Homo sapiens: one gene and its partner. The protein of the gene in region 1 interacts with the protein of each later gene in a pairwise test. Each region holds a gene or a part of one and is shown in the gene's direction. Other genes may lie near its edges.

Region 1 (3,827 bases):
GCTGGGACTGGTATCCTGGGCCAGCAGTGCTTGGACAGCGCCTGGAAACGCTGGTATAGTGTGTTCAAGCAAATGCATTGTTCTTGTTTATGCTTCTCATTTATATTATCTACTAAGATACCTTTAAGCAAGGGATATTTAGTCCAGTCACCCCAAAGTCTGATTTTTATGATTTTAAATTTTTGATTGTAAAAACAAGTATAATTTATGACAGTTAATAAATCTAAAAGGAAAAATGATAAGTTCAAGAACATCTTAGGTCATCAAGGTGTTTCTTTCTATGGAAGTAAAAGTAGAGTTTCACTTAATCTTTGTAATCACAGCAGTTAAACATGCTCCATTCTTCAGGGTTTCCTGAAGGTGCCCATCTGGTGGTACCAGCTTCAGGGTCCCTCAGGACACTGGGAGAGTCATCAGGACCAGACCAACTGTACTTCGTCTTGGGGCAGAGTTTGGAGAGCCACTTCCAGCCAAGGTGAGAACAGAATGGGATTTCAGCAGCCAGTGCATCATAAAGAGAAGTAAATTGACTGCCTGTGCTCTGAGAGTCAATTGATATATTTATTTTTAAAACGTAAGATCTTGAAAATCAAGACCTATTAATTTCATAAGTCATTCCAGACATCACATAATAATAACACTGTGCCATTTCTGTACGTGCTCTGTAACCTCTGTAAAGCACTATATATCTTGTTGTTTATTATTATATCAATATATTACACTTTCCAAAGACTTTTATGTATCATCTCTCAAGATCCTCAGGGCAACAGGGGCCCCATTTATCACCACGTACCAGAATATTGAGACTTCATCCAATTCTAATGATGTCATTTTAGCCCACAGGGGCAGAGACCAGGAGTCCACATCCTACATGTCTTCCAATCTTTCTGCCTCAAAACCCTCAGGAACTGCTTCTAGGGCATTTGATATCATCTCACTGACTTCTGAGAAGGAACATAGACAAGTACAAGCATGTTGTCTTACTCAGCACTCAGCCGCACACATCACGATGGGCAGAAGTCACTATCAGTGAGTTCTGTTGCCCTTGTACAAAGAGGAGTTCCACTTCATTATAAAGAAATGGAGCGAGTATATTTTTAATAGGCCCAACTCTTTAGCTATGTTTTTCTTTTTATCAGGCTTTACTTATTTAGTTTTTCTAGTGCCTTGAAGTATATTACTTATATTTCTTTTTAATCTTTTCAGCCTCAGTAATAAAATTAATATAAATGAGTCAAATTCTTATCTCCTTATTCTTTGAAGTTAGGATTATATAGAGAGAGTAATGTTGAATGAGCTATAAAATTGGCATAAAGTTACTTTTTAGTTGGGTTACAGTAGTTCATGTTAACTAATGCTAAAAATGCCTTGGTGATAGAATTCTAGTTACATATAGAATTGGATATAGATTGTAAAAGCATGTTTAATCAGTATGTTTCTACGTGAAAAGTAAATAAAAGGTTCTTTTTTTGGTAATACATCTGTACACAACACATGGGAAATGCACTCATGTGTCACTTAACAACATGAATATGTTTTGAGAAATGCATCGTCAGATGATTTCATCATTATGTGAACACGGTAGAGTGATTTACACAAACCTAGATGGTAGAGCCTCCTACACACCTAGGCTATGTGGTGTAGCCTCTTGCTCATAGGCTACAGACCTGTACAGCAGCTTACTGTATTGAATACTGAAGGCGAATCATAACACAGTGGCAGGTGTTTGTGTATCTAAACAGAAAAAGGTACAGTGAAAATACAGTATTATAATCTTATAGGATCACATCACATGTGTGGTCTTTGACCAAATCATTATGTAGCAGGTGATTATATATTTCATTCTTTAGAATTTCCTAAAATTATCTTTCCGGTAGTGTCAGCCTGTAATTTCCTTAAGACACAAGAGGAACTTCTCATGCACTTAGTTGACTTCTAATCTCTCTGTAATTTCTTGCTATGCATTAGTGGCATGCTCAGCAGTAAAGACAGTTAAGGCAAAAATAAGTGAAGACAGTCTAAATTTAGTTGCCAGCTTTTATATTGTTTTTGATGAGAAAGCATTGTGTTTTTCCCTTTTTTTAAACAAACTTGGAAAGGCCTTCTTATTGTCAAGATTTCCTTATAAATAAACATTTATTGGGCATTTACTATGTGGCACCCATTGTACCAGGAACTGGGGAGACAAGATAGATGGCCTGCCTCCTCTTGAAAATTCTGTTGTTTTGAGGAGGCAGATTAAACGCCTGCACACAGACAGACAGACACACACACACACACACACACACACACACACGAGGAACAGGTTGGGATGAGTGTTATGATGAGGAAACAGGAAGCTAACATACAGAATGCAGCCAGCATATCCTACCCAAAAAGTCCTCTTTGAGGAAGGAGAGAATGTGGAAAAGTACATTCAAGGTAGGGGCATAAGTGTCACAGACCTCTTGGGAGTCTGCCGACAACATGTCCCTGCCTGCTTACCTGCCAGACAGGGCCTCCTCATAAGACTTGGATGCAGAGGCTCTTGAGTGGAATTTTAATAACCTATTTACAATATCAAAACATGGCAATGTATTTCAGAAACACAAAATAAGTTTCAAGTTCCTTGTAAACATCCCGCTCTGTCCTTTGGAAGGTGCTTCTGGGAACGAGCCTGCGCAAGTTTCTCTCCTCTACTTGGGAGACATAGAGATCTCAGAAGATGCCACGCTGGCGGAGCTGAAGTCTCAGGTCAGACTTCTTCCTGCACCATAACTTAGTGGTAATGTGGCTTCTTCCAGTGAGATATTAATATATTCTTCTATCTCCTTTTCCCTCAATTACAGTCTGTTCTGATATGGCATTTGTCATATGCCATGTTCAGTGGTAAGTACCCGCAGGCAATACACGCCCATGGTGCAGACGGCTCCTCGTGGCCTCACTGGTCCCTCCTCTGACAGGCATGCTGTGCTTTTGTTTCAATCTATCCTCAGTGACTTGCGGCTTTTGTTCATTTTTATTTTTTTAGGGAAACATGGTTTCTTGGAACATTTGTAAAGCATTCACTTTATCCCTTTATTTACATTGTTTGTGTACCATTGTGACCCATATGTTAAATGTTGTTATGAAAAGCTGTGTTACCAGTTTTCCAGGAGGTTAGAACTCCAGCTTTTATGTTAGGATGCTAAACTAGATATTCTAGGTATTGTGTTGTTTCTTATGCATTAACGTTCACAGAGAAGGAGGGTTTTATCCAAATGGAAGGGCTGGATTAAGCACAATGCAGTGTTGAAGCAGCATCCGCCTACTGTTGGACTGAAATGAGCATTCCTTTCTTCTCTTAGAGGAGAAAATGTGGGGCCTATATATGACTAGTGGTTGTTGATGTTTGGCTTTTGTGCGCCCTCAGTATATGAAATACCCTTCCTCAAGAAAAAGCATATGTTGGCTGGGTGTGGTGGCTCATGCCTATAATCCCAGCACTTTAGGAGTCTGAGGCAGGCGGATCACTTGAGGTCAGGAGTTTGGGACCAACCTGGCCAACATGGTAAAACCCTGTCTCTGCTAAAAGTACAAAAAAAAAAAAAATTCACCTGGCACGGTGGCAGGCACCTGTAATCCCAGCTACTCGGAGGCTGAGGCAGGAGAATCACTTGAACCCAGGACAGGGAGGTTGCAATGAGCTGAGATTGCGCCACTGCACTTCAGGCTGGGTGACAGAGTGAGACTCCGTCTCAAAAAAAAAAAAAAAAAAAAAGGAGAAAAGAAAAAGCAGACAGCCTTATTCTCATGAGAACAAATGGGAAAATACTTTTTTTTTCTCATATTAAGTTGAAAGATATAAA
Region 2 (3,827 bases), about 64 Mb from region 1:
AGGAGGACATGTCACAAAGAAGAACAAATAGACTTCTGGATCCAGTATCTTCAGACCAGAGACATTTAAGTTGAGAAATTGACTCAGTATGAATAAAGATTTCACGGTGTCAAAGATACAGATGAAAGATCCGTCTGTGTGTGCCGTGATTTCTCTACAGCATGCATCTTTATTCTTTCAAGCTGTTCTTCGCTCTCCTGCTATTACAGATCTTTACCACTAGATGGCACTAATTTTTCCATTCATCATCCATCTATTCATTATTGGCCAACCAATCATCTAACTAACGTTATTCCCCTCGATGTGTCAGGGATGGTGTTTAATACTGGAGATTGAAAGAAAAAAATGCCACTAGATGGAGCTTCTTAAACATGCCTGCAGGTCCTTTGCAATTGGTACACTATTTGGTCTGCAGGAAGAAATTCAATAAATATATTTGATATTAAACTCTGTATTAATGTATATCATTAGTTTTAATGAATGCATTTGCAGCTATACCAGATATAGCTGTTTGAATCTGGACAAACTGTTTTACTTCTGGGGCTAGAGTCCTCAATAATATTTCTCACTGGGGGCGCTATTGGCATATTGAGTGGGACAGTTCTTTGTGCTACAAAACTGTCCTATGCACTCAGGGAATTTCAGTATTTCTGGTCCCTGTCCACTAAATTCCAGTAGTGTCTCCCCTAATTCAGTGTGACCCCAGAAATCACCTCCCCTCCCCAACACATGTGCACTCACTCCTGGTTGAGAACCGCTAGGATCTGGAATGTCTCTGTTCTAAGATTCTATGACCAATTTTGTGAAGTAATGTAAAGAAATGAAAGTCTAAGAGTAGTTGGAAATTTTACCATTTTATACAATCTTTATTTCTCAAATTTCATAGTCTATAAACATTGATATCTTGGTAACTTGGCAGTCTCATTATCACCTTAAACATTGGTTTCTGTTCTGCTGATTTAAATCAAAATAAAATTTGACCTAAATTGATGCTGAGAAGAGTCTATATCAAGGCTTCTGTACACCTTCTCAAATTCCCTTATTTCTTCTTCTCATGTCACACACACACACACACACACACACACACACACACTCATACACTCACAGACATACATAAATATTGTCTAGAAAGGAATTTTCAGTTTCAGATTTTTCAAGGGACTAAACATTTTTTCTTTAAGCTATATTAAAAATGGATTTTGAAGATTAATTTTCCACAGACACACGGATGCTTGAATGTCATATATTTGGTCCTCCAAGCCTGAGTCAACCCCAAGCTAGTGCCAGATTTATTTTATATTTTCAACATTTTTTCTCAGTCCATCTCTAGTCTAGTGATCTTCTTCACTAAATAGACATTTTCCCCAGCTGGTGCAGGAAGGGGACTGTGGTGGGGAGGCTGTAACCTCTGATCTGCATGTCTGTTATCAGAAACAAAATGTAAACTGACAGTCTCTTTCAAAGGAGAGCAGATCTTCACCAATTGTAGTCCTTTCTTTCTCTTCCCTTTTGTAATACCTTGGTTCCTCCTCTTACTTTTTTACATTAGTGAGGCTGAGACCCTCTAAAATGTGTCTTCCATGTTATGTCCAGGGATCTCACTGTATTTCTTCCCTCCTGGGCACTGAGTTAACAGCCAGCATGCTTTAAAAGCAGTAGAGGCGCTTGGGTGAGATCACCTAGGTTGATTTGAATATGCCAGAGTCCCACAAATGTATCTTTCATCCATAAATATGTTGAAAGACTAACAATTAAAAACATGGGCTGGGCACGGTGGCTCACACCTGTAATCCCAGCTCTTTGGGAGGCCGAGGTGGGTGGATCATGACATCAGGAGTTCAAGACCAACCTGGCCAACATAGTGAAACCCCATCTCTACTAAAAATGCAAAAATTAGCTGAGTGTGGTGGCATATGCCTGTAGTCCCAGCTATTCAGGAGGCTGAGGTGGGAGGATTGCTTGAACCCGGGAGGCAGAGGTTGTAGTGGGCCGAGACTGTGACACTGCACTCCAGCCTAGGCGACAGAGTGAGACTTCATCTCAAAAAAAAAAAAAAAAAGATTCAGTTCTATCATTTTCCAAAAGTTACATTGATATGCATAGGATCCCCCAAGGAGACAAAAATGAAAGTCACCGTCCCTTTCCTCTTGTTAGTAATTGCTTAACTTCAAGTTAGCCATTTCATTTTGAAGCAATGACATCTAAGAGACTTTGGCCCGCCCCACTTAACTGTAAGCGCCCAGAGGCAGGGCTCTGACCTGAATGTCTTCATGTTCCCCTTGGGGGCACTATGTACAAAGCAGGTTCTCACTTGAATGTGGGTTAAAGTGAAGACCTCTTCTACTTCTGTAGCCCTGTGTTCCCCACTCCTCCACAGGCTGGTCCCCTGCTGTCACAGAGTAAGAGACACCCCATAAAACCTGTGGGCTCCCTCAGCTCCTGTTGAGAGTAGGCTGTCTGTTCCCTTGTCTCCCACCAGGTTTTTATCTGGCAGTCAGCATGACAGGCAACTTTTCAGTAAAGCGTGGGCCACGCACCATGGTCCAGGGTGATTATCTTTGGGTTCTCCAGTTTATGGGCCTCTGGGTCCCCTGAGTAATCATTACCTGCCCTTCTACCTGCAAGTTAGTTGTATAATCTTGCTGTGACTCAGCAAGTATAGGATAATAAGTGTACCTACCTCTGGGGTTTGTTAAAAAAAATCAGAAACTTGTAAAACTCTTAGAATAGTTCCTGACACATAGTAAGCACTCAATAAATGTTAGATGTTTTTGTTATTATTATTGTGACACAGGAGGGAATGATGAAGGGAGAAGGGATACTCTTGAGTTGACCAAAGAATGTTACTTTAGGGAATAAGAGTTACAGTTTGGCTTTGCCATCTCCACCCAATTTTCAGGCAGCCCCAGAAATCTCTTTTTCTCCAGATGCATCTTGTGCATGTCTGTTTTATGTGTTCTCTCTGTACTGAGGTAACCAGGTGATTTGCTTGTAGATACTATGGCACAAATTCTATAATATATAAATTTGAAGTCAAAGAAGTGTTTAAAACCATTCGATTAAAAGAGCCCAGAGTTTCAGTTACTGTTCAGGGACCATAGGAGGAATTGAACAATTTACCATATGGGCTGAATCACATGGTCCCAGGTCCCAAATTGCTTTACCCTTCAGTAAGAAGAAATTTTAAAACTGAGACAGGAGGAAAAGAAACCCACAAAATAATTCCATTACTGAGAGGTTTTTGTTTTCCCCTTTTCATTTAGGTGACAAAATGGAATCTCTTCAAACGAAAATCTAAACAAACTACCAACTTTGAAAATCCAATCTATGCACAGGTAATTTTTAACAATTTTTCTTAGCACAGACATTTTTTCTTAGAAATTATTTGCTTGGTTAAATTGGACACACACTTAGATTATTCTGAGCAGAGTGGCCACAAATAGTCTTCTTTATGAAAAACCGTGTATGGTGACCTTGGGGGAATAAATGGCTGATTCCTGTTACATTGTATTCTTAGATGGAGAACGAGCAAAAGGAAAGTGTTGCTGCGACACCACCTCCATCACCTTCGCTCCCTGCTAAGCCTAAGCCTCCTTCGAGAAGAGACCCAACTCCAACCTATTCTGCAACAGAAGACACTTTTAAAGACACCGCAAATCTTGTTAAAGAAGACTCTGAAGTATAGCTATACCAGCTATTTAGGGAATAATTAGAAACACACTTTTGCACATATATTTTTTACAAACAGATGAAAAAAGTTAACATTCAGTACTTTATGAAAAAAATATATTTTTCCCTGTTTGCCTATAGTTGGAGGTATCCTGTGT

What was found.
Region 2: the proteins of USP40 (region 1) and LRP2 interact in a two-hybrid assay, tested with the Homo sapiens proteins (one study listed by BioGRID).

What each region holds. Positions count from the first base shown.
Region 1 is NC_000002.12:233,490,073-233,493,899, reverse strand, and holds part of USP40 (ubiquitin carboxyl-terminal hydrolase 40), read left to right. Parts: intron 1-348; coding exon 349-475; intron 476-2,638; coding exon 2,639-2,733; intron 2,734-2,828; coding exon of another isoform or gene 2,829-2,868; intron 2,869-3,827. UniProt on the Homo sapiens protein: May be catalytically inactive.
Region 2 is NC_000002.12:169,128,521-169,132,347, reverse strand, and holds part of LRP2 (low-density lipoprotein receptor-related protein 2 precursor), read left to right. Parts: intron 1-3,263; coding exon 3,264-3,335; intron 3,336-3,517; coding exon 3,518-3,685; 3' UTR 3,686-3,827. UniProt on the Homo sapiens protein: Multiligand endocytic receptor. Acts together with CUBN to mediate endocytosis of high-density lipoproteins. Mediates receptor-mediated uptake of polybasic drugs such as aprotinin, aminoglycosides and polymyxin B.